Homo sapiens: one gene and its partners. The protein of the gene in region 1 purifies or fractionates together with the protein of each later gene. This does not show direct contact. Each region holds a gene or a part of one and is shown in the gene's direction. Other genes may lie near its edges. The genes, in order: TANC2, KCTD3, SRGAP2, AGAP3, AGAP1, ZBTB21 and LIMD1.

Evidence for each region.
Region 2: the proteins of TANC2 (region 1) and KCTD3 purify together in Homo sapiens (affinity purification with mass spectrometry, with the first as the bait; one large-scale study listed by BioGRID). This does not show direct contact.
Region 3: the proteins of TANC2 (region 1) and SRGAP2 purify together in Homo sapiens (affinity purification with mass spectrometry, with the first as the bait; one large-scale study listed by BioGRID). This does not show direct contact.
Region 4: the proteins of TANC2 (region 1) and AGAP3 purify together in Homo sapiens (affinity purification with mass spectrometry; one large-scale study listed by BioGRID and IntAct). This does not show direct contact.
Region 5: the proteins of TANC2 (region 1) and AGAP1 purify together in Homo sapiens (affinity purification with mass spectrometry; one large-scale study listed by BioGRID and IntAct). This does not show direct contact.
Region 6: the proteins of TANC2 (region 1) and ZBTB21 purify together in Homo sapiens (affinity purification with mass spectrometry, with the first as the bait; one large-scale study listed by BioGRID). This does not show direct contact.
Region 7: the proteins of TANC2 (region 1) and LIMD1 purify together in Homo sapiens (affinity purification with mass spectrometry; one large-scale study listed by BioGRID and IntAct). This does not show direct contact.

The regions. Positions count from the first base shown.
Region 1 is NC_000017.11:62,972,735-62,976,234, forward strand, and holds part of TANC2 (protein TANC2), read left to right. Parts: intron 1-3,500. UniProt on the Homo sapiens protein: Scaffolding protein in the dendritic spines which acts as immobile postsynaptic posts able to recruit KIF1A-driven dense core vesicles to dendritic spines.
Region 2 is NC_000001.11:215,619,304-215,622,307, forward strand, and holds the end of KCTD3 (BTB/POZ domain-containing protein KCTD3), read left to right. Parts: intron 1-753; coding exon 754-1,315; 3' UTR 1,316-2,504; downstream 2,505-3,004. UniProt on the Homo sapiens protein: Accessory subunit of potassium/sodium hyperpolarization-activated cyclic nucleotide-gated channel 3 (HCN3) up-regulating its cell-surface expression and current density without affecting its voltage dependence and kinetics.
Region 3 is NC_000001.11:206,458,541-206,461,738, forward strand, and holds part of SRGAP2 (SLIT-ROBO Rho GTPase-activating protein 2), read left to right. Parts: intron 1-82; coding exon 83-407; intron 408-1,044; coding exon of another isoform or gene 1,045-1,134; exon of another isoform or gene 1,135-1,139; intron 1,140-2,496; coding exon 2,497-2,880; 3' UTR 2,881-3,198. UniProt on the Homo sapiens protein: Postsynaptic RAC1 GTPase activating protein (GAP) that plays a key role in neuronal morphogenesis and migration mainly during development of the cerebral cortex. Regulates excitatory and inhibitory synapse maturation and density in cortical pyramidal neurons.
Region 4 is NC_000007.14:151,117,475-151,120,974, forward strand, and holds part of AGAP3 (arf-GAP with GTPase, ANK repeat and PH domain-containing protein 3), read left to right. Parts: intron 1-161; coding exon 162-303; intron 304-735; coding exon 736-870; intron 871-999; coding exon of another isoform or gene 1,000-1,030; coding exon 1,031-1,158; intron 1,159-2,512; coding exon 2,513-2,671; intron 2,672-3,045; coding exon of another isoform or gene 3,046-3,111; exon of another isoform or gene 3,112-3,181; coding exon of another isoform or gene 3,182-3,271; intron 3,272-3,500. UniProt on the Homo sapiens protein: GTPase-activating protein for the ADP ribosylation factor family. GTPase which may be involved in the degradation of expanded polyglutamine proteins through the ubiquitin-proteasome pathway.
Region 5 is NC_000002.12:236,036,043-236,039,542, forward strand, and holds part of AGAP1 (arf-GAP with GTPase, ANK repeat and PH domain-containing protein 1), read left to right. Parts: intron 1-518; coding exon 519-673; intron 674-3,500. UniProt on the Homo sapiens protein: GTPase-activating protein for ARF1 and, to a lesser extent, ARF5. Directly and specifically regulates the adapter protein 3 (AP-3)-dependent trafficking of proteins in the endosomal-lysosomal system.
Region 6 is NC_000021.9:41,996,861-42,000,360, reverse strand, and holds part of ZBTB21 (zinc finger and BTB domain-containing protein 21), read left to right. Parts: intron 1-3,500. UniProt on the Homo sapiens protein: Acts as a transcription repressor.
Region 7 is NC_000003.12:45,671,251-45,674,750, forward strand, and holds part of LIMD1 (LIM domain-containing protein 1), read left to right. Parts: intron 1-1,439; coding exon 1,440-1,570; intron 1,571-2,203; coding exon 2,204-2,255; intron 2,256-3,092; coding exon 3,093-3,161; intron 3,162-3,500. UniProt on the Homo sapiens protein: Adapter or scaffold protein which participates in the assembly of numerous protein complexes and is involved in several cellular processes such as cell fate determination, cytoskeletal organization, repression of gene transcription, cell-cell adhesion, cell differentiation, proliferation and migration.

The DNA.
Region 1 (3,500 bases):
CTTTAGACTCATTGCCTGCCACTTCTGTCTTCAAAGTGCTTTAGCGGTAGTAAACTGTGTGTGGTTCCTTCAGTATGTAGTATTCTCCTACCTTTTCATGCCTTTATGAAGTTCTTTTTTTCATGGACTACTCCTGCCCTCTCCTTTGTTCTCTGGGCAAACTGCTTCACAGCCATCATGCGTTAGCCCAATGTCTTCCGAGTGAAGAAGGTTTTGCTTACTCCTCCAGGTGGGCTTGGGCATGATGTTCTCTATCTATTCTCCCCTTGCACTTGGTGTATATAGTAGTTGCCGCATTTTTTTTTTTTTTTTTACACGGCGTCTCACTCTGTTGCCTAGGCTAGAGTGTAATGGCGGCCATCTTGACTCACTGCAACTTCTGTCTCCTGGGTTCAAGTGATTCTCCTGCCTCAGCCTCCTGAGTAGCTGGGATCACAGGCATGTGCCACCATGCCCAGCTAATTTTGTTATATTTTTAGCAGAGATGGGGTTTTGCCATGTTGGCCAGCCTGGTCTTGAACTTCTGACCTCGAATGATCGGCCCGTCTCAGCCTCCCAGAGTGCTGGGATTACGGGCATGAGCCACCATACCCGGCCGTAACATATTTTAAATATTTAATATGACTGGTTCATCACTAATGTGTGAGCTTTTAAGCAGGCACTGTGACTTTTCATCTTTTCAGCATCAGTATAGTTAGTACATAGTAGGTGCTCATTATCTACTTATTGAGTGAGGATTGTTGACCGTTATCTCAGTTATGCCTTTGAAACCTCATCTCTTATTGTGGAATTAGAGGAAACTTTAGGCACCAGGAGGTAGGTTTAGAGAAATATACACACCATCTAAAATATTACTCAGAGTAAGTCCTGGACTGTAACTAAAACTAACCCTAAAGATAAACCAGATTTTGTTCTTTTTTATGTTTGCTGGTGGCAAGAGGAAGATGAGAAGATTCTCTGAACTTTAGCCAAATGATTTTCTTTGTACAATGCAAGAGTTGCCAAACTATAGCCCATAGACCAAATCCAGCCCATTGTCTGTTTTTGTATGACCTGCAAACTAAGAATGGTTTTTACAATTTTAAGCAGTTGAAAAGATATCAAAGGAGGAATGATACTTCATGACATATGAAAATTAAAGGAGATTCAAATTTCATTGTCCATAAAGAAAGTTCCATTGGAACTTAGCCATATTCACTTATTTACATATTGGGTATTGGGTGCAGCAGCAGAGTTGACTACTAGTTGCTGTCGAGACCATACGGCCTGCAAAGCCTAAATATTTACTAGCTAGCTCTTTAGAGAATAAGTTTGTCAGTCCTTGGTCTGTTACATAGCCTGTGCCCATTAAGTGTTCGTTGAATATCATGAGTTGGAGATATACCAGCTACTTTTTTGAAGGGCTTCGCAGGGCATAATTCCTTCTATTTACTGAGAAGATTGGCCACTTTGCTTTTGTAATGATTTATCTCACAGGCCCCTGTTGTACCTCTCTGATGACACCCTTATTACATCTAACACTGAATAAGACTCTCACAAAGTGTGTTTCAAGATTCTATTCCTTTTTTTTTCTTTAAAAGGTGGAGAGGAGTTTGGAGAACAGCATGTAGTAGAATGTTTTTCTTCGCTCACATCTCAGTTTCTCATATACATTTTTTGCAATAAAAGATCATTGTTATATTTTTAAAAACCTTGATTTTGTATATTAGTTTGTTAGGCAGACACCTTGTGTGTAAAGTTTAAAAGTTGAGGTGGATTAGTTATGTTGGAAAAACTGGGGTATTTTTATGGAGTGTATTAACATATTCATTCATTTAAATATTTATTGACTACTATGTATAAGTTGTTAATTTTACTACTATTGTCTTTGACTTGGGGATGGAAATTTCATATTCTTCCTTAAAAGCTAAAATTGTAATTCAGAATCCTGTGTCTTACATATTTTTTCTACCCCTGGGAAAAATATAGTTCAAAAACATATGTACCATACTATTAATATTTGCCACTTCCCTGAAGTTCAGTAAGCCAATGATGATAGATTTTACTGTTTTCTTTATGTGGCAAAGTGTTATGAAAAGGCAGTGATTGATATATTCCTTTTCGTAGATATCAGCCAATGTTACAGACATAAAATTCATAAAGAAAAGTACGTAAGCAATAATAGTGGAAAACTTGTCATTCCAAATGGATGATCTTTGGACCAGGTAGCCATTCTTATTTCCTTGTCTGTAATACCATGCTAGCATTATCATATGATGACGTAGCTGATTATAAAGATTGACAACATTAAGAAATATGGCCCCAGTTTTTTACTGCCATGGAAATCCCCTGGTTAATCCAGCCTTATAAGTAGATTATAGTTATTGAACTTGGAAACGAGAGTGGGTATATAGAGATTGTGATTTAGTCATTTTATGCTTGGAGAATGTGCTTCAAATCTCAGATCTCAGGCAATTCTGTCTGCCTAAATGAAGGTAGTCACTTCTTAGCCCTTTATTCCTAATCTTTCATTGGGTGGAGGAATCCCACAATTTCTAGTTGTGGTTGCTGAAATTTGGTAAGGCACAGCTAGTTAGGTTATAGGTTATAGAAACTTGATACATATTTATTGTACTCTGTAATTCTATTTCTGTTCAAATTCCATGGAATCCTCTAGGGCACCCTGGGATTGTGAATTAGTGTGAATGAATGTAAATAGCTTTAGTGGGCCTATGGAATGAAGACTTATTAAACCACATAAATAACCGTCCAACCACATACACCCATATTCTGCCTCAGGATCAGAGAATCAGCTTTTCCATTTTCGGGCTTTTTTTTTTAATTTTTTTTTTTTTTTAATGTAGAGACAGACTTTGTTTGAAAGCTGTTATTCAGACATTCCTATATTATAGGATGACAGTACTGTTGCTCAGTTGTAAGTTTAGAAATTCCAATGATGAGACCAGTATATATTGGAAAGAATATGACTTTATGAGTTTTGAATCATGAAAATGGGTTTGAATTACTGCTCTGTCACTAATTGTATGAGGGGCCAAAAATCTATCTCACAGGGTTTTTATGATGATGAAATGAAAAATATCTTGGTGAAAATCCTTAGGACGATGTCTAGTACTTAATAAATGGTAATTTTTATTAGCCTGTGGAAAGTATCCTAAATTTTTCTTTTTTGATATATGCCAGCTCCTCCCAATTTTTTACTGGCATTGTCACTCCAGCTTTTCTTTGTTATCTTGTCTTGATTTCCTTTTCAGCCTTGCAAGGCATTTTAGAAACCCATGGTAGTTTGGATACTGATTTATTTTATTCATATCCTTAAATTTTCTTTTGTGAAGTATTTGATAAAAGCTGAGAGAAAGAGTTTTTGAATAACTGTAAACCGAAAAACTCAGATACTGCTGGGCCTACTCTTTTTATGCATTTTTTTTGGACTATTTCTTTTGAACACTACTAACTTGACAAAAATTAATTTTAATCCTTTCTATAAAATCTCAAATCATAGT
Region 2 (3,004 bases), on another chromosome or scaffold:
GTTGGGTATTATAAACAAAATTTATTTCTTTTGGGGAAATTGACTGAAATATTGTAATCACATAGTTGTTCTAGAAAGCCATACTTCTCAAGGTACATTTTAAATTCAGACATTATGTTAACTTTTTAACAGTTTTACCAAATTTCTTGATAGGCATATCTGGTTCTTTTCATAGAAAAACATTTTTACCTTTTAACTTATTTTGTGAATTGCTGCCCAATTGGAAGCCTATTATGTGATCAAGAATTTATTCAAAGGAAATTAGGAAAATTACATGTCACCTTGGTTAGTATGTGAAGCTTTAATTATTGTCCTGTCTCAGGGACAATATTTATCTGTGGTTCTATTATGTTGTCTAGTCTTACATTTAAGCATTATGTAATTTTAATACAAAGTTCCATAATGTCTTTTTAGTTATCATATTGATAAATTCCAAAGTCTGAAGAACCAAGGGCTAAATACTGAATTATGATGGTTTCACATTGGTTTCAAGGATTTTTCCTCCCATCTTTTTTTTAGCTGTTCAAAAATTCAGCATGTCTGTGAATATATGATGGTATTATTTGCATTGGTAATTTTATATACCATCTATATAATAAAGAGTACTTGATAAGTATATTTTTACAAAGAGAAATATGGATATAATACACTTTATGTATTTATATAGTGTGTTTTATTGGTTGTATAATTAATATGTTCCTGAGAAATCACAGAGTGAAATCTGAACTGTCATTTTTAAAAACTGTATTTCAGCCTTCAGCTTCAGCACCATGATACCACCCATGAAGCAGCTACTTACGGTTCCATGAGGCCTTACAGAGAAAGTCCTTTATTAGCAAGGGCAAGAAGGACTGAGAGCTTTCACAGTTATAGGGACTTCCAGACTATTAATTTGAACAGAAATGTAGAAAGAGCTGTCCCTGAAAATGGTAACTTGGGTCCAATACAAGCTGAAGTGAAAGGGGCAACAGGGGAATGTAATATATCTGAGAGAAAGTCTCCTGGAGTAGAAATAAAAAGTTTGAGAGAATTGGATAGTGGATTGGAAGTGCATAAAATAGCTGAAGGTTTTTCAGAATCCAAGAAAAGGTCATCAGAAGATGAAAATGAAAATAAAATAGAGTTTAGGAAGAAAGGAGGATTTGAAGGGGGAGGATTCCTTGGAAGAAAGAAAGTTCCCTATCTGGCGTCATCACCAAGTACTTCCGATGGAGGAACTGACTCACCTGGTACTGCGTCCCCATCTCCTACAAAGACTACTCCATCTCCTCGGCATAAAAAAAGTGATTCTTCAGGTCAGGAGTACAGCTTGTGAAAACTCACCAAAATGAATAGTTGTTTCGTTACATTTAGATGAAAGTTAAACTTTACTGAATTTCAGTACATTAGTTTTTACACTAAAACTTTACAAGATAAAATTGGACTTCATTTAGTATCTTTTTAACAGAATTACTTGGAATAATGAGATACAATAATCATATCTCTTTTGACATTTTGGAAATTTTTTTAATTTTACAAGTACATTTAACAGATCATTTATAAAGCAGGAGTCCATTTTAACACTTACCGACTTTTTTTGGTTTGGAAACATATTACCACGTCTTAATAGGATGGTGCCCATATAGGTGAGCATCCCTTTAGATCATGGGAACCAGCAGACTGCATTCCTAATCTTCATTATGCCTGAGACTTGTCTTACAATGTTACCTTTAAGTGAATCACATAATTGTCTTTGGAACTTGGTCTCCCAACACTTATTGTGATTGCAAAGTGTTTACCAGATATTTGATGAGGTGCTATGTTTGTGAAAAACATATCATGTAATTCAAAAACACTATTGATATTGAATACCAGATACCACTATGTAGTAAGTCTTTTAGGATGATTTTAATTTAGTCGTGCGTCATTTTCTGATTCTCATCATTGGGAGATCTTAAATCTTAGCAAGCATTAGCAATATTAAATGCCAAAATTCCATTGAAACTTTCAAGTTGGAGCAATTGTCTGTGTTTGAAAAGATGAAATAAAAATAATAATCAAGGGCAAAGCTTTGAGTGCCCAGAAGGGAAAGCTGTACCAGTTGCTAACCTGTCTTGTTTCAGGAGCCACCATGTTTTTTTTTCAGTGTTAACAACAATCATGATAATTAAATTAAAACACTAGTTTGTTCACTTGTAGGACTGCAGTTCTGAATTTTGGGTTAAAGGTTTTGGCTGCTGTAAGAATGTGAATTTGAATGTATTTTGAATTGTAAGAGCAAAAGAACGTTTTTGTACAATTTTTTTTCATTTAATTGGAATGATCTTCAGGTTTCTACAAATAGGGTAATTGTAAATTTAAAGCATTAGCATTTATTGGTGAATAATGTATATATCCCCATTCCAAGAAATATAAGTGAGTGAAGTTGAAATAAAATCTTTAAAATTTACTATATTGCCAGTGGTTTCACAACAGTTCTCTTGTATTTATTTATCAATTAAATCAAATAAAAATGATTATGTCAATGCGTTTTCAGTTATTTAAGTAACAGTTCTGTTTAAAGTGTGCTATATATGTTTGTTCATTTCTTTGCTTCTTCCCATAATTTAAAAAAAATGGGGGGAGGGAGAACTTAATATATGTGGAAAATAAGTTATTATCAATGAAAGAAAATATTAGGCAAAGCATAATTTCAAAATTACTAAGATTGTAATTATCTTACACCCTTCTTCCTCTTTATGACAGTTATGTGAAAGTTGGGTGGGCAAGTAAGAAAATGAAAGAAAAAACTAGACTCTAGTGACCAGGAATAAAAGGCCATTAAAAAGAAGATAGTAACTATTATGTAATAGAATCGCATAAAAAGGAAACTGACTATACTAGATTGCATTACAGTACAAGTCAAATCGTTTCTTTCTTTTGCTTACAGGAGATTGAACCTTGATGCAGTGGTTTATGTCTGTCTACTCTGACACTAATTTCTCAGATTGCCCCCATTATGCCTTAATTTTTTCATTATACCTAC
Region 3 (3,198 bases), on another chromosome or scaffold:
ACATCTGCCCCCTCCCACTTATCCTAGCTTCCTTGGAGCCAGGGCTCCCTGATCACACTGCCCTTTCTGTTTGTGATTGAAGGCAAAGGAAGCGTCCAGAATCTGGGAGCATCCGGAAAACTTTTCGGAGTGACAGCCATGGGCTGAGCAGTTCCCTGACTGACTCCTCCTCCCCAGGGGTGGGGGCTAGCTGCCGCCCATCCTCCCAGCCCATCATGAGCCAGAGCCTCCCCAAAGAAGGGCCAGATAAGTGTTCCATCAGTGGGCACGGGAGCCTCAACTCCATCAGCCGCCACTCATCCCTGAAGAATCGGCTGGATAGTCCACAGATCCGGAAGACTGCCACAGCGGGAAGGTCAAAAAGCTTCAATAACCATCGGCCCATGGACCCTGAGGTCATTGCTCAGGTAACTGTGGGCTCCTGGACAGACAGCATGAGTCTACATTCATCACTACCACTTAGTGCCACCCACCTAATTATGACAGGACTTGAAACAGAATGATTATTTTGTATGTGATATACTGAGTATATGTCCACTCTGGACATGTGGACCCAATAAGACAGCTTAATAAGTGGTCTGCCTGTCCCTCTCTCCCCAGGAAGAACCTAAAGACAGAATAAAAGAAGCCTAGCTTCTTGCTCATACACTGGCTATTAGGAAGGCTGTTGTAATTTTTAAAGCCGGTATTAAGAGTATTTTGAAAGCCCAAGTTTTGAGTCTAAAGACCTTGGTAGACTTTAGTGAAACTGCCCGACTGTTGAGGATCAGGTGTAATCCTGGCCACATGTTTATATTGCTGTGCCCATCACCATCATCCCGATTCCTAAGGCTAGTCTCTGGTACCGAATGGGTAGATGATCAATTAAGAACCTGCACCTGGTTTTAAAGACCTAAAAAATACTCTGGCTGCAGAGAGCTCTGGTAACCAAAAGGATTTGCAGCCCAAGCCTCCAGAGGCTATGGAGATGAGCTCCCTGGTTGCAGGGTCTTCCTTCTGTGTATGCACCGCACTGATGACTCTCTGTTTTCCATGAAATATTAGAGATCCAACCCCACCTCTAAAAATCCGACTACCGGGGCCACTCCAAGCAGTTCACTCAGACGTCTCTCCCAACTATATAATTTTCATTAGACCAGGTAGGAACTAAGGGCTTATTGTTGCCTTCTTATCTCAACTGAGTTGAGATTCTCCTTACCCCATCTTCCAGGGGGTGATAGAGGCTGGGCATGGTCTCTCTTGGCTTAATTGTGGTTCTCTGCTTACGGAGATGTACCTGGCAAGCCCAGTATTGAGCTACAGGCCTGAGATGTCTTGCTTTGCTAGCCTTCTATTCTGTGCCTCTATTTAAGCTCTTGGCTGCAATCTGCCTTGCGCTACGGGAATCCTCCCAGCTCCCTCCTTGGCCAGGTGTTAATAGGAATGTCAGGAAAGGTAGACAGCTGGGACAGACTAGCTGTAGAGTGCGACTGAGGAGGGAGATGGAGTTCTTCCTGAGCATTTTAAAGGTTTGAGAATGTCATAGGGATGAGTGAAACTGAATCACTGTGAACAGAAAGCATGCATCGGTCTGTACGACAAAGAAACCTTAACCAAAGGCCTTCGCTTGGAATGTGTAAAATCTTTCCATGTGAACCTAATCCCAAGAAGAAATCCTGTGGTAGTTTGGGGGTGCCAGACACAGGTTTATGGGGAGGGAGCGGGGAGCTGGGAAGTCTCACTGGAAGGCAGCTGGCTTGCATACAAAGGTTCTTTGGTTCTGCCTTGAGTCCCTGGGCTAGGACTGCTGTTGGCTAAAGATCTAGAGTGTTCCATTGATTTGCAGGCAATTGATTCACCTATGTGGGCTTTGGCTCCCCTTCCTGGTCATTCTTTTGTCCCCTTGGTGGTGATGGCTGGAAGGAAATGGTTTCAAATTGGACACTGCCCTGAGTTGGGGAGGAGGGGCGGGGGGAGGCGTATTGGGCTCCTGAAACTTTCCTCAGCCCCTGAGGAGGAAGGACTAACCCTCTTCACCTTTGGCCTTGAAGTCCAAGAGAATAAAGATCATACATCATCTCTACCACTTTTTAAAAAAGTGTTTATTATGTACAATTTCAAACCTACCCAAAAGCAGACAGAACTGGATAACAAATCCCCATGTACTCATCACCAAACTCCTGGCCATTCTTACTTTGTCCGTGTTTCTCTTCCCCACTAGATTATATGTCACTTCGTCGATAAGTATTTCAATATCTATCTCTAAAACCTAGGGTCTCTAAAAAAATATCAATTACTTTTTCTAAAGGAAAAAAAAAAATCTCATGACAGTGAAAATCCCTCCGTCCCCCTTTCCCTACTTCCTGAGCATTCATATGTTCAAAGATTTAGGCCAAGTACAATAATCTGGACATCTTACGGTCATTTTCTTCATGCCTTGGCCTGTGTTGTTGAAACCGGCTCCTTGGGGAATTCTCCCCTCATTTGCCTCACCTCCTCCTTTTTCCTGTTTTGCAGGATATTGAGGCAACAATGAACTCGGCCCTGAATGAGCTACGGGAACTAGAACGGCAGAGCAGTGTCAAACACACCCCTGACGTGGTTCTGGACACCTTGGAGCCCCTCAAAACCTCCCCAGTGGTGGCCCCCACGTCAGAGCCCTCCAGCCCTCTGCACACCCAGCTCCTCAAGGACCCCGAGCCCGCCTTCCAGCGCAGCGCCAGTACTGCTGGGGACATCGCCTGCGCCTTCCGGCCTGTCAAGTCTGTCAAGATGGCTGCCCCGGTCAAACCACCAGCCACACGGCCCAAGCCCACTGTCTTCCCCAAAACAAATGCCACTAGCCCTGGTGTCAACTCATCAACTTCCCCACAGTCTACTGACAAGTCTTGTACTGTCTGAGGGATAATAATTTAATTGTTCTAGACAAGGGGACTATAGGGACTGACTGTTATTAAAATCTTCCTATTTAACTAGCTTGGGGACTTCAGTTGAAAATTAGGTTCTAAGTTGTTCTTGCAGGAATTAGCCTCCCCGTCTCCCAAAACCTTGAGAATGAAGCCCTTGGTATCGCCTCTCCCTTCCCACTGCCCTCTGCTTCCCCCAGTCGTCGTAATTCAGCCAGCTGCAGTCCGTACCGTTCTTAGGTTAGCCAGAGACAGGTTTTCATTATCAGGTCACTGTGAAATCTGGTAAGGCAGTCCTGAGGACATGGGCTCA
Region 4 (3,500 bases), on another chromosome or scaffold:
GTTAGGGCCCACCGCTGTGCCTGGAGCCCTTTCTCGAGCTTGCTGGTTGGGACTGGGAGAGGTGGTATGTCCAGGGAGAAGGGTCTACTTGAGTTCACCTGCCCTGCATGGGAGTTTGCCAGGTCCAGTTGCGGGTGCTAATTTTACTTGCTCTACCCTAGTTTGCTGCCTGGGTGGATGCAGTGGTGTTTGTGTTCAGCCTGGAGGATGAAATCAGTTTCCAGACGGTGTACAACTACTTCCTGCGTCTCTGCAGCTTCCGCAACGCCAGCGAGGTGCCCATGGTGCTTGTGGGCACGCAGGGTGAGGCGGGGCCCTGCAGGAGCTGGCAGAGAGCAGGAAGTCCCGGGCAACGATGCATGGGGGCAGGGGTGGGCAGGTGTGAGAAAGCCCCCAAGCCCCTACTCTTTTCCCAGTGCTGACTGGGACCCTCAGCACTCTCCGTGCTGCTCGTGTCTGAGGGCTTTTGCCCCCACTGAAACCTGCTGTCCCTGTGACTAGCAGGTCTGTGTTTTTTTAGATGAATAAACGTGCTCAGAGCTTAAGTGCTTGCTGGTTTGCACTCAGTGAGGCCATGGAAGGGTTGAAATGAGACCCAGGCACCCGCGTTCTTGGTGCTCTGTGTGTTCCACTCACCAGGCCCTTTGCACACCTGCCCTTGGGCCAAATGCCCCCCACCACACTACCCCAGCTTCTCCGAAAGCTGAATGACTCCCGCCCTCCCACCTCCAACAGATGCCATCAGCGCTGCGAATCCCCGGGTTATCGACGACAGCAGAGCCCGCAAGCTCTCCACAGATCTGAAGCGGTGCACCTACTATGAGACGTGCGCGACCTACGGGCTCAATGTGGAGCGTGTCTTCCAGGACGGTAACTCGGGTGCCGGGTGGGAGTCACTGGCAGCCGCGGCCCCAGTGCTGGCGATAGGAAGGCTCCCAGTGAGAGCAAGGCTGTGTGTCTGGGGGGAGGTGCTAAGCCAGGCTTTTCCCTTCTCTCCAGTGGGTATAATTGACTCTGCTGTCCCCTGCAGTGGCCCAGAAGGTAGTGGCCTTGCGAAAGAAGCAGCAACTGGCCATCGGGCCCTGCAAGTCACTGCCCAACTCGCCCAGCCACTCGGCCGTGTCCGCCGCCTCCATCCCGGCCGTGCACATCAACCAGGTTCGGCCTGTGCCCCGCCCTGCCCTTCCTGTCCCCACCATGTCTGTCTTGCCTCTGTGCGTCCTGCCACTTCTGCTGGCCTCCTGCTCACACCTGTCCACCTTCCTCTGGCCTCCCAGCCTTGCATGTTGCTTGGAAACATTGGTTGGAATTCCATTTAGCCGGCACCGTAGCCTTGGCCTCATCCCTGCCCCACGGTGCCTGCCCCTTCCCGCTGCAATCCCCACTTCTCTCTGCTCTCCACCATTCCACAGCCTGCATTCCCTACCCCGATGCCCTCTGCTGAAAGTCCTGGGCCATCCACAGGTGGCATGGTCAAGGCAGCAGCCACTGCACTTTACCTCTGCCAATGACCGTCATCTCTCCAAGGCCTGCCCTGGCTGCAGCTGGTATTCCAGTGACAGCCTGGTTGCATTTCAGAGACCCTTCCCTTCAGGGCTGTGAGAAGGCGGCAGCGTTCCCATGTGGGAAAAAGGAGGAGGAGGGCTGTGTCCTTCTTACTGTCTCTGAGCAGCCCCGCCCGACACCGACGGAGTGGGGCTTGCGCAGCTCACTTCTGCAGTGGTCCCTGTCCCGAGGGGCAGGTTGTGGAGGGGCAGTGGTCCAAGCACCTCTTGTACAGGTTAGGGTTCAAGGGAGGCAGCCGGGTAGGCCACACGCTCTAGTGAGGGCAGTTGCGGTGCAGACCACCTGGTTGTGCCGTGCATGCTTCCCGAGTCCTGGAGGAGCTGCCCTACTGTTTCTTCTCCATTCTGTGATCTCTGTCTTTTTCTCTTTCTTTCCCTTCTCTGTTCCACATCCACACCTTACTCTGATTGGGAGTCATAGCTCTGTTCTCTCTGCCCCAGCTGTCCCGGAATCCCTTTCCCTGCCATGGGCATGCTAGAAACATGCTGCAGTGCCCTGGGCCACCTCCGGCTCCCGCCTCCTGGCCTCCTGCACTCTAAACATACATACCTGAATGTGAGAGTTTGTCCGGGGTGACCCTCTACCTCCTTCCAGACCACCTGCAGGTCAGGACTCCAGTCTGTTCACTGCCAGGCCCTGCAGCTGATTCCCACCTACCAGCCTGTGCCTCTGACTTAGCTCCCTGGTTGGCCAGAAGCACTCCTGCCGGGGCCCCAGGACGAGGGTTTGCTGCCCTAGTGGGGCAGCCCTGGCAAGGTGACAGTAGATCCTGCTGGCCTCCAGGCCAGGTGAATGTTCCCCCCATATCATCTGTAGGGGCTAGTGGCCCCTCTGCTGCCCATGAGCCCCGGCCAGGCCCCCATTAGCACAGGGATTCCCGGCACCCGCCTGGTGCCCGTCCCGCCCCTGACCCGGAGCTGCCCTCAGCAGCCCTCTTTGTCCTTAGGCCACGAATGGCGGCGGCAGCGCCTTCAGCGACTACTCGTCCTCAGTCCCCTCCACCCCCAGCATCAGCCAGCGGGAGCTGCGCATCGAGACCATCGCTGCCTCCTCCACCCCCACACCCATCCGAAAGCAGTCCAAGCGGCGCTCCAACATCTTCACGGTACGTGACTGCCCTCCTCCCCCGCCCAGCTGCCTTTGCTGCACAGGCAGGGCTGAGCGCCGAGCTCCCAGCCAGGAGGGGCGTGGGCAGCCCCAAGTCAGGAAGACGGTACCTGCAGTCTCTCCCTCAGATACACACGGCTCCCGAGGGTCCTTGCCGGTGCCCTCAGAGTCTTCCAGACTGTTCTCTGCACCCACAAGGGGTTTCCAGTAGCGGCCCTTACCCTGTCCCCACAGTCCTCCCTGCCCTCTGCCGCACACACTCACCCTCCCCGCCGCCTTCCTCTCTCCTAGGCCCCTTTAGGGTGTCTGTGAGCTTGAAAGTATCCTTGGACTCACTTGGCCTAACTCCCCTGACCCCCTTTGATTCAACAGCTAATGAACCGGCGGCCGGAAGGCTGTTTGCCCAAGGCGACACAGAGGGTTAGCTGGCCCAGCTAGAGTCAGAGCCCAGGCCTCCCCGTCGCCTTCCGGCTCTTTTTCCGTTACCCCACTGCCGAGGGGAAAATTCATGCTTTCCACCCACCGCTGTGATTGGTTTAACAAAGGCTTAGCCATCTTTTCCTGGGCTTCACCACGCTGCCTCGTTCCTCCCTCTCAGGTTTGTCCTGTCTCCTTGTGAGCTCCTCACTCACCCCTCACAAACCTCACACCCCACACCTGGGGGCTGTTGTGCTGGCCCGGCTGAGGGTGGCCTCTGGCTCTCAGGCCCCAGGGCCTGCTGTCTCTCCACTCCCAATGTGCGACACACAGTGCCCATCCAAACCCTAATCCTCCAGCCGGGCTTGGCTGGATGTTCCAGGAGTCTTGGGCCAGACAAAGGTGGGTGA
Region 5 (3,500 bases), on another chromosome or scaffold:
TCCCTGTCTGAAAACGTGGGAATTGATGCCTCTCCCACGGTAACAGGTCCTCTGCCATAAAAGAACAGAACCTTCCCGCGTTCCTCTATCCATGGAGTGTCTGTGGATCTACGCGAGTGCTTAGATAGAAATTAACCCTGCAGCCGGAGATTAGCGGCCCTAACTTAATTTTCGTCCCACAGATAAGGATGGTCAGCCATGAGTTACATGGTTATTCTCCTAAGTTGCTTTGTGTGTGCACCACACAGAGACGCTGACATCACTCGTTGATTTCATCTGGCCTTGTGCCCTGAGCCTTGATTGAAACCTGGCTAAGTCATGCTGGCCTTAGGAACCACATCTGGACTGTTGGGAGGTGCATGGATTCAAATCTCCGCCGCCGTGGTTGTCCAGTGCCGTGCGCCTCACCGGTCCATGCAGGGGCAGCTGAACCCAGAGGCGCTTCTGTGACAGAGGGCCCGCAGGGGGACTGCTGTCTCATAAAAGCTAAACTCTTCATCCCACACTCTGTGTTTCAGAACAAGAAGAAAATTTTGAGTTTATCATTGTGTCCCTCACTGGCCAAACATGGCACTTTGAAGCCACGACGTATGAGGAGCGGGACGCCTGGGTCCAAGCCATCGAGAGCCAGATCCTGGCCAGCCTGCAGTCGTGCGAGAGCAGCAAGAACAAGGTGAGGCCCCTGGCTGCCCAAAACCAAGGCTGGGGCTGCTCAGGGGGAGTGCGGGCCCCAAGTAATGCCCCAGGGAGGAGAAAATAGAGGACCAGTGTGAATGACAGGACCTAGCTATTCTTTATGAGCAGAAAGCTCAATAACTAAAACGATCAGAAGCACTTTGTGTCTATACCATCATACATGAGTATTCCAGCCTGACCGTGCTTCCCTGGCAGGAGAGCCAAGGTTAAATCTTCAGTCTGTCAGCCAATCCCAGAGGGAATCTTTTGGACTCTTGTGGCTTCTGGGTCCACATTTATTTTTGTTTTGGACAGAATACACTCAGAAAAAAAGAGAGACGGACTTAAAAGATGCACTGTTCAAGTAAATGCCCAGAATTCAAATCGACATCAAGTTGGAAAACCGTCTCTTGTTAGGGACATAAATGAAAAGTAGATGGGTCTGTATGAGCGTGCAGGGAGTTTGGGAAGATAAAGTTTCTATTATCTAAACTGATAAAGCCTGGTATGTGTTTTATTCAATAATTAGAGGTGGTGGTGCAGCTCTTTTAGAATTTGTCCAGCAGGTTTTCTGGTTCTCACCAGAAAACGCCACCCCCAAATGTTTCTATATTAAAAAAATAATGAGAGGCAATTTGTTTTTTGTAGTTACTTAGCTAGAAAAGGAAAAATATTTTAACCTGTATTTTTTTTTCCTTTGGAGAGAGTCTATCTCTGTCACCTAGGCTGGAGTACAGTGGCACAATCTTAGCTCACTGCAACCTCCAAGCTCAAGCAATCCTCCCACCTCAGCCTCCTGAGTTGCTGGGACTACAGGCCTGGCTTGCTTGCTTATTTATTTGTATATTTATTTATGTAATATATATTATTTGTGGAGGTGGGGTTTCATCACGTTGCCCAGGCTGGTCTCAAACTCTTGGGCTCAAGCGATCCACCTGCCTCAGACACCCAGAGTCCTGGGATTACAGGCATGAGCTACCACGCCTGGCTTAACCTGTGTTCTCTAGGCTACTGCCCAGTGATGTTCCTTCTACAAAAGTCCTTTTTCCCATCAAGGATTGCTTCAGTTTCATTATTTTAATGTTTGTTTGTCTTTAACCTCTTTGCTGGGACGTCTTAGACTTTTGGAGAGCATTTTGATATTTCAGACTATGATCAACTAGAAACTAAGAGAAAGGATGTTACCCACCGACCTGCAGTTTCATTTGTAACCATTTAAAGAAATTTCTGCCTATGATTTATGTGCAGCTTTGTCACTAAAAAGAGAGTCTGTCTTTCAGAAAGATGAAGTGTCTTATTTTATTACCCTCTTTAACCAGGGTAAACCAGACCACAGTCATTATTATTATAATGTAATTTGCTTCCCTTTTTAAAAGATGTTTTATACTCAAGGTGGGGAGAACCACTGCCTTTCATTCCATACACCCTGGCTTTACTGGGTCACGTCCACATGCATCCATGATGTGCCTCCTGAAACGAGCACAGGGTGCTTTGGGGCCACCTCAATGGGAAGCAACAGCACACAGCATCCTCCAAGCGTGGGCAGCTCATTCTGAGAAGGAAGGCAGGGAGGCAGGCTGTGTTACCGAACAGAGAGGCACAGGTTCCTGCCTTCATGGAGAAATCACAGTCTTTCACGGCAGACTCTGAGCCCCTGCCACCTCGACCTAATTCAGGAAGATCTGGGATGGTGGCAGCCTTTCCCATTCCACACCTTGCCAGGCTCCTCCTGACTCGTGTCTCAGCTCATGCACACACCAGCCTTAGAATGCTGCCCTCGGCCCTCACTAGGCGCCTGTTCTCCAGGGAATTGCTCCCTTGGGAGGAGGACGCGTTGAGCAACCAAAGGTGGCCGACTCAGAGCTGGTCATCGTGGGCATTGGTTGAACAGGTGTGAGGGCATAAAACATGGAAATACTGTCCACAAGGAGTAGCGGGAGGCAAAAATACAGGCCCAGTTGACCACCAGCTTTATAGTATTTTACCTGCCAGTGGATAATTGAGAGCTGATACAGGTATAGGCATAGCTAGACAGACAGACAAACCAACCAACCACAGAAATGATACAGGTACACAGAGAGACAGAGGCACATCCCTTTGTATGTGTGTGTGTGTGTGTGTGTGTGTGTGTGATCACACACTTGCATTCCAGATGCCAGTGTAAACTGTTTAAACATATTTTGAATACTTGGGTATCTAACCAAAGGGAATTAAAATTCAATAACGCATGATGCTAATTAGACAGTAGTGATTAATACATTATAATTTATTATGTAGCAAGTAATATATTATTTCACATCAATTTGATGAGATGTTTCAATTTATGAAGAATTCTTACGCAAAAATCAAGCTTATTGTAACTGTCCTCTGAAATTGATCAATTTTTGCTTTAACCATAATATTAAATGCATACTTAATAAATAAGCCTCAAAAACACTACATATCAGCCAGACACGATGGTTCACGCCTGTACTCCTAGTGCTTTGGGAGGCTAAGGTGGGAGGATCACTTGAGGCAAGGAGTTCGAGACCAGCCTGGCCAACATAGGGAGACCATTGTCTCTACAAAAAAATTTTTAAATAGCCAGGTGCATGGTTCACACCTGTAGTTCCAGCTACTCAGGAGGCTGAGGTGGGAGGACCACTTGAGCCCAGGAGATGGAGGCTGCAGTGAGCTATGATTGCACTACTCCAGCCTGGGCAACAGAGCAAGACCCTCTCTCTAGGTGGGGAAAAAGGTACATATCCAGTACATATCCTTTCACTTAGAACTTCTACTTCCAGGAATCTATTCTTAGTAAATAATCATGAGTGTGTACCAAGACT
Region 6 (3,500 bases), on another chromosome or scaffold:
TATTTGGGAACTGATCCCAGGAAGCACAAGAAAGGAAGTAGGGACAGTAAGGCGGAGATGGAGGCTCATAAAGGGTACATTGATGAACAGGTTGCTGCTCACGTGTAGGATATCAAAACTGAATTCTTTAAAAAATCTGAACTCCTGGTTTTTCTGTCAAACCCCATCTCTCCTAAGGATGCCCTTCCAGTTATTTTGGCAGAATACTTAACTCCACACCTTCTGTTTTCTCCTGCAGTCTGTCCACTAGAAATTCTAATGACTCTGCCTTTACCTCCGTTGCTACCACCCTGGTCCCAGCCACCATCCTCTCTCATCTGGGTCATTACAGTGGACTGCAAGCTGGCCCGCAGCTTCCCCCATAACCTACCCTCTGTTGTCTAATCTCAACAACAGAGCCAGAGCAATCCTTTGGAAATGTAATTCAGGTCTTTGTCATTCCTCTGCTCAGAATCTTCAATGGCTGTCCATTTCATCCATAGTAAAAAATAAAGTTCTTCTGGAGGTCTCCCAGCCCTAGACGGTCTTACTTCTTATTGCCTCTCAGATGTCATCTTACATGGCTCCCAGCACACACTGCTCCATCCCTCCTGTTGCCTTAGCTTCTCCCTTTGTTGTGATGTTCTTCCTCCATTTATCTCCATGGCTCATCCCTCGCCTCCTTCACACCTTCTTTGATCCCATTTTGATGAATGAATGACATGAGAAGTTTCTGGTATAGTTTGTAGTGTAGGTTCCTGTACAGTTAGGTGCTATATAAATGGTAGCGACTATTATTATCTTATTTAATTCCCACAATAGCATTATGTGGTAGCTGCTAGTATTATCCTTATTTTATGGCGAGGTAAACTGAGGCTCAAAGAGGTTGGTTAGCCTAGAACAGTGGCTCTCAAAATATTTTGACTGACCCACAGGAAGGAATACATTTTACATCTCAATCCAGTCCATGCTTGCTTATGTGGGTATGTACATATATATAATAGAAACAAAAGTTTCTCAAGCTCATAATTAGCCTTATGACATTTGATGCATTCTGATATTTTCTACTCTGTCCTAGTCATTTATTTTTTAATTGCTAGTTTTAAACCACCAAGTTGAGTTTAAGAACCCCTTTTGACAAAGACTATCCAAGCCTTTAAATCTGTACCTTTAATTCTGTGTTACAGCTTTTCCCTGTGGCAACATCTGAACTAGCTTTGTCAAAAATTATTAGTGCTAAAAACTCCTCAGTACCCAGCTGAGTCAATACGTGTAACATTATAAGCTTATGTCTTTTTCTGCTGATCTCTGTAAAAGATGGTAAGGGTTTCTTCATACAAATAGATGTAAAGAAAGTATAGTAGGATTAAGGAAAATTTAAATGACTAAGAGAAGAAAAAGGAAGGGAAATTATCAAGTAGTCACAAATAGAATAATTTTTTAAAAAAATAGAGGAATTAAAATTTACCATTTACTTTGAAAGGATGGTAGGCGGGAGTGGACAGAAACTTGGTACAGTCTGACCAAAGTAGTTGTTTGTGGACAGGCTAAAGGCATCATCTCTAGAAGCAAAGTCCTGTGTCTCAGTCGGTTAAATTGAGTCGCATCTTATCAGGGAGTCAGAAGGAATTGTATACCGTGTGTGGCCACTCCCAGGTTGACAGCCTAGGAGACTCTGGGCTCTTCCTGAAGAGCCTGGTGGCTGGGGTAACCAGCAAAGGCCAGAAGAGAACCTACAAATGAGCTGGGGTCAAGTTTGGTTCATCTACAGTTTGCCCGCTAGAGAAAGATAAAACCGTCACAGATAGTTACTTGGGATTCATGTAATCTTAAAAATAAATGTCTTAACAATATTTGAAAGAAAATATGGCATTATAAAATGAAAGGGATGAGCCAGCTGTGGTGGCTCACACCTGTAATCCCAGCACTTTGGGAGGCCGAGGCAGGCAGATCACGTGAGGTCAGGAGTTCGGGACCAGTCTGGCTAATATGGTGAAACCCCAACTATATAAAAATACAAAAATTAGCTGGGCGTGGTGGTGCACGCCTGTAATCCCAGCTACTCAGGAGGCTGAGGCAGGAGAATCGTTTGAACCCAGGAGGCAGAGGTTGCAGGGAGCCAAGACTGAGTCATTGCACTCCAGCCTGGGCAACAGAGCGAGACCCTGTCTAGAAAAAAAAAAAAAAAATGAAAAGGATGAGGTGTTAGAGGAACAGAAGCCTAAATAAAGGGTCAAATACACAGAGTCAGGCATTGTCTCTGCATGAAATGGCTTTGTCTGCATCGAGAGTATGGTGGGGTTAATCTGCCCACTTTCTTTGATACTGAATTAGATGCCTATTAATCCTGCAATTTCTGAAAGTTAAGTGCACATTTGTTGAGTTTTCTTTAGATGAACTCTTTGCAACAACCCTGCAAGAGGAGGGCACAGTTGTCATTCCTAACTCAGGTGAGGGATCTGCCACACCGAGAGGCTAACAGAAACACCCAAGGACAATCAGCCAGCCTGCAAGGAACTGGCATCTCAACCCAAGTGTCTGGCACCAGAGCTTGCACTCTACCACTAGGCCTCCTCTTCTCATGTTTAGATTTGAAGAGCATTTCAGTGAAATATCAGTTTAAACTCTTTAATTAAATTTAGAACTAGGCTAAAGTTTCCTTTGTGCTATTGTTGAAAATGTGATTTGGTAAGAAAATAGTATTCATGAGATTGCAAGGCAAATAGCATAAGAAAGAAAACAAACTTATTCTTCAACACTTCTAATCTTTTTTTTGTTTTTTTGTTTTTTTGTTTTTTTTTTTTTTGAGACAACGTCTTGCTCTGTCAACCAGGCTGGAGTGCAGTGGCGCAATCTTGGCTCACTACAACCTCCACTTCCCAGGCTTAAGTGATTGTCATGCTTCAGCCTCCTGAGTAGCTGGGATTACAGGCACATGCCACCACCCTCGGCTAATTTTTGTATTTTTAGTAGAGATGGAATTTCACCATGTTGGCCAGGCTTGTCTCGAACTCCTGACCTCAAGTGACCTGCCCGCTTTGGCCTCCCAAAGTGCTGGGATTACAAGCGTGAGCCACCGTGCCTGGCGTAAACACTTTCATTAGTAATTAGCAAATAATTTTTTGCTTTCCAAATTCTTTTCTATTTTTAAAGGTCTCTTGGCCAGGCTCAGTGGTTCATGCCTGTAATCCCAACACTTGGGGAGGCTGAAGCAGGAGGATCTCTTGAGCCCACGAGTTGGAGACCAGCCTGAGCAACATAGTGAGGCCCCATTTCTAAAAATAAAAAATAAAAAAAATTACCCAGGTGTAATTAGTCCATTTTCACAATGCTAATAAAGACATACCTGAGACTGGGTAACTAACAAAGAAAAAGAGGTTCAGTGGACTCACAGGTCCATGTGACTGGGGAGGCTGTGTAATTATGGCAGAAGGCAAGGAGTGCAGGGCACATCTCACATGGTGGCAGGGAAGAGAGAACTTGTGCAGGGGAACTCCTCGTTATGAAACCATCAGCTCTCC
Region 7 (3,500 bases), on another chromosome or scaffold:
CCTCCTCTTGCCTTCTTGGCTGGAGCTTGTGCAGTGTGGAGTTATCCGCCTGAGGCTTCCAGGGGAAGGAGCTGTAACACAGCATATCTTTACCCCTGGGTCTCACAGTGTACTGACAAGGCTTCCCCAAATCCAAAATCCCCTTTCTTCAGCCTGTTTGAAGGCTTTCTGTGTGGGCTCCCACTGCTGGATGCTGATGACCGTTCTGTACATTCTTTGCAGATGCATGTTTTGGTGTGACCTTGCTCATGTTGATTCTGTAGTTCAGTTGTTTTTGCTAAGTTTCATGATGCAGGTAATTGCAGAAATGAATCTCCTATTAAGTCAGTGAAGATGCTTTCAACTGCAAATTATAGAAAAAACCCAGACTCAGTTCGAGTTAAACCAATGATCCTCCAACTTTAATATATATCAGAATCACCCTATTAAAATACCAACTGCTGGGCCTTACCCCCAGAGTTTCTGATTCAAGAAATCTGGGATGGGGTCCAAGAATGTGCATTATTAACAAGTTTGCAGGTGATGCTAATGCTGAAGGTCTGGGGCCACACACATTTCGAGGACCACTGACTTCATAGGAATGATATTTTATCTCACCTAAAAAGAGGCTTGGAGGTATGTGGTTCCATGATGAGTTAATTCAGTTACTTACGGACCTCACCAAGGATGTTCTTTCCATCTCTTCTCTTTCCTGCTGTCCATGTCTTGGGTCTGTCCTGGTTTCAGGTTGGCTCTGGCAGTTCCAGGTATCCCATCCAGATCCAGATTAAATGACACTGAGAGGAAGAAGTTTGTGGGGCTTTCCCTCTATTGCGTTTAAAAACAACAACAGAGAAACTTTACTTATTACACTTGGATTTGAGGTCATTGGGTTGAGTCAGAACTTCTAGATTATCATGCTCCAGAGTCAAAGCTGCATAGAAGGGGCATCCAAGAGGCAGAAGTGAAGGGGTTCCTTTTGAGCTCTGCCATTTCCACATGGAATTTCTTTTCATTTTTCCGAGTACTTGCTGCTTCCCAAATCTGGGAAGGATGTATCCTTCTGTGGCCCTGCTTTGCATCGTTTCCCACTTCTTCGTGGTGGATTTTGGCCCTGGGATTGGCCCATCCCTTCCTTACCATCTCTTTCTCTTAAAGAACTATGCAAGAGTTTCCTGTTCTGGGTGAGGGTTGGAAAGGAGCCCTCTTTCCCTGCCAGCTCAGAGACCCTGTGAGAGGCTGCAGGAGAAGGATTCCTGTGTGGTCTCTTCTGTGTATTCATCTAAACAGATTTGCCTTTCCCACCCCATCACCTCTTGCTCTTCTCCTAGGTGAAACTCGGGGGTAAGTGTACTCTGTGTGTGACTGCTCATGTAATCCTTAGGCCTGATGTGTTCCTCTCCCCTTCCACCATCTCATCCTTCCCTATAATCCCCACTGAGTCTTGGTCTCTGCTCCAGATCCTGCAAGCCCTGGGGAAGTCCTACCACCCCGGCTGTTTCCGCTGTGTCATCTGTAATGAGTGTTTGGATGGGGTGCCCTTCACCGTGGACTCAGAGAACAAGATCTACTGTGTCCGAGATTACCACAAGTAAGAAGGGATGGGAGCAGACAGGACCCATTCGTGTAGGCCAAGCTGATCTCAGCAGAGTGAGTGGTGGAAACCGACAAAACTGTGTTTGCCAGCCGCCCTTAGATCACAGTCCAGCAAAGGCTTAATGGTTTTGAGGGGTACAGCAGGGACCTTGGGAGGTTGGTCGATGCCAGTGTTGACAGGAATGGGTTAAAGAATCATGTTTAGTGAAAAAAAAAAAACAACAGAGCACAGAAAAACTAATAATCATATTTGTAGCTAGGCCTCGGGAGGAATCCACCAAGCCCTGTGGCTTCAGCGTTACCTAACTTCACAAGGCCCCTATGCAGTGCTGGTTCCTACCACTCTTGGTTTGCCTGGGCCTGTGCTAGGCACCATGAGAGGTGTAAACAAATCAGTTAGTGCTGTCCCCAGAAGAGTGAGAGGCAGCCAGTGTCCTCATTGCAGCTGGGGAGCAAATACTAAGGCATATTCCACAAAGTGAGCCAGGTACCAGTCATTCTATGAGGGAGGAGAGCAAGGGGCAGGAGGCGGCATGGAGGAAGGCTCCATGTGGATTCCAAGTGCAAGTCTGACTCTGGAATTTGCTCCCAGAAGCAACATTTATTGCTGCTTTGTTTCTCCCCACAGGGTGCTGGCCCCCAAGTGTGCAGCCTGTGGGCTTCCCATCCTTCCACCTGAGGTAAGATGCCCTTCCAGACATGCTCCCAGGGGCTTCTAAGACATGAATATCTCCCTGGGCTCATTTACAAGATCCATGTCCTGTCCTTACAGCTTTTAAGGTATCCTTTTAAAAATCTCAACTCTGGCCTGGTGCAGTGGCTCACGCCTGTAATCCCACCCCTTTTAGGAGGCCCAGGCAGGAAAATTGCTTGAGGCCTGGAGTTTAAGAACAGCCTGGGCAACATAGCAAGACCTCATCTCTACAAAAAATTGTTAAAAATTGGCCAAGTGTGGTGGCATGTGCCTGTAGTCCTAGCTGCTTGAGCCCAAGAGTTTGAGGCTGCAGCGAGCTATGATGGTGCTACTGCATTCCAGCAGGTGACAGCAAGACCTTGTCTCCAAAAAAAAAAAACCAAAAAAAACCCCACTTCACCTTTGAGATAAGTCGTGTCTTCACCCTTCCTTGTTGACTGGCTTCCCCAACCCAGTACCCTTCTTGTGCTGATTTGTCCCCATAACCAGGTCAAACTCCCTTACTTGATACTAATTCTTAGATTAGCAGATGAGGAGAAAGGCTTGTCTTTTCTTCATTTTTTAAAATAAGTGTCCATGTAGGTCTTTCTTTCAGTGTTAACTCTGACATTCTAGAAGGAAGGACTCCTATCCCTCCTACTTCCCCTCTCATCAGCTTAAATGTATTCTTCTTCCAGTAAGTACTCCTGATTTACCTTCTCCTCCCAAGGCCACCTACTTGTTACCCCCAAAACCCTCTTCCCTCCCCACCCCACGGTACATCAAGCCCGACAGCCCCCCTAACAGGCCTCTCCTATGTGTTCTTGCTTTTCTCTGGTCCCAGGGCTCAGATGAGACCATCCGTGTCGTGTCCATGGACAGAGACTACCACGTGGAGTGTTACCACTGCGAGGTAGACCCCTCCCCACCCAGCCCCCAAAGCCCATTGTAGACATCCAAGAGAAAAGCATCCTGCGTTGACTGGGGCAAGAGGCAGTCAACAAGATTCTGGCAAGGGTCAGCCCTCTAGAGCTTCTGTAGGAAATGGAATGAAGGCTGGTTCTTGGGGGAGGTAGGAGAAGATGGAAATGCTCAAGGTATAAAGGTCTTTCTTCTGCATATTCAGAACTATCAAGTCCTGCAACTGTTGGAGCTGCTCTCCCTGAAGCTGCAGAGCTAGGAGGGTCGTGGAGAGCATGGGTTTCAGGTCCTATCTGCGGGCCACATTGTCAGGCAGGTGTGCGATTTGGGG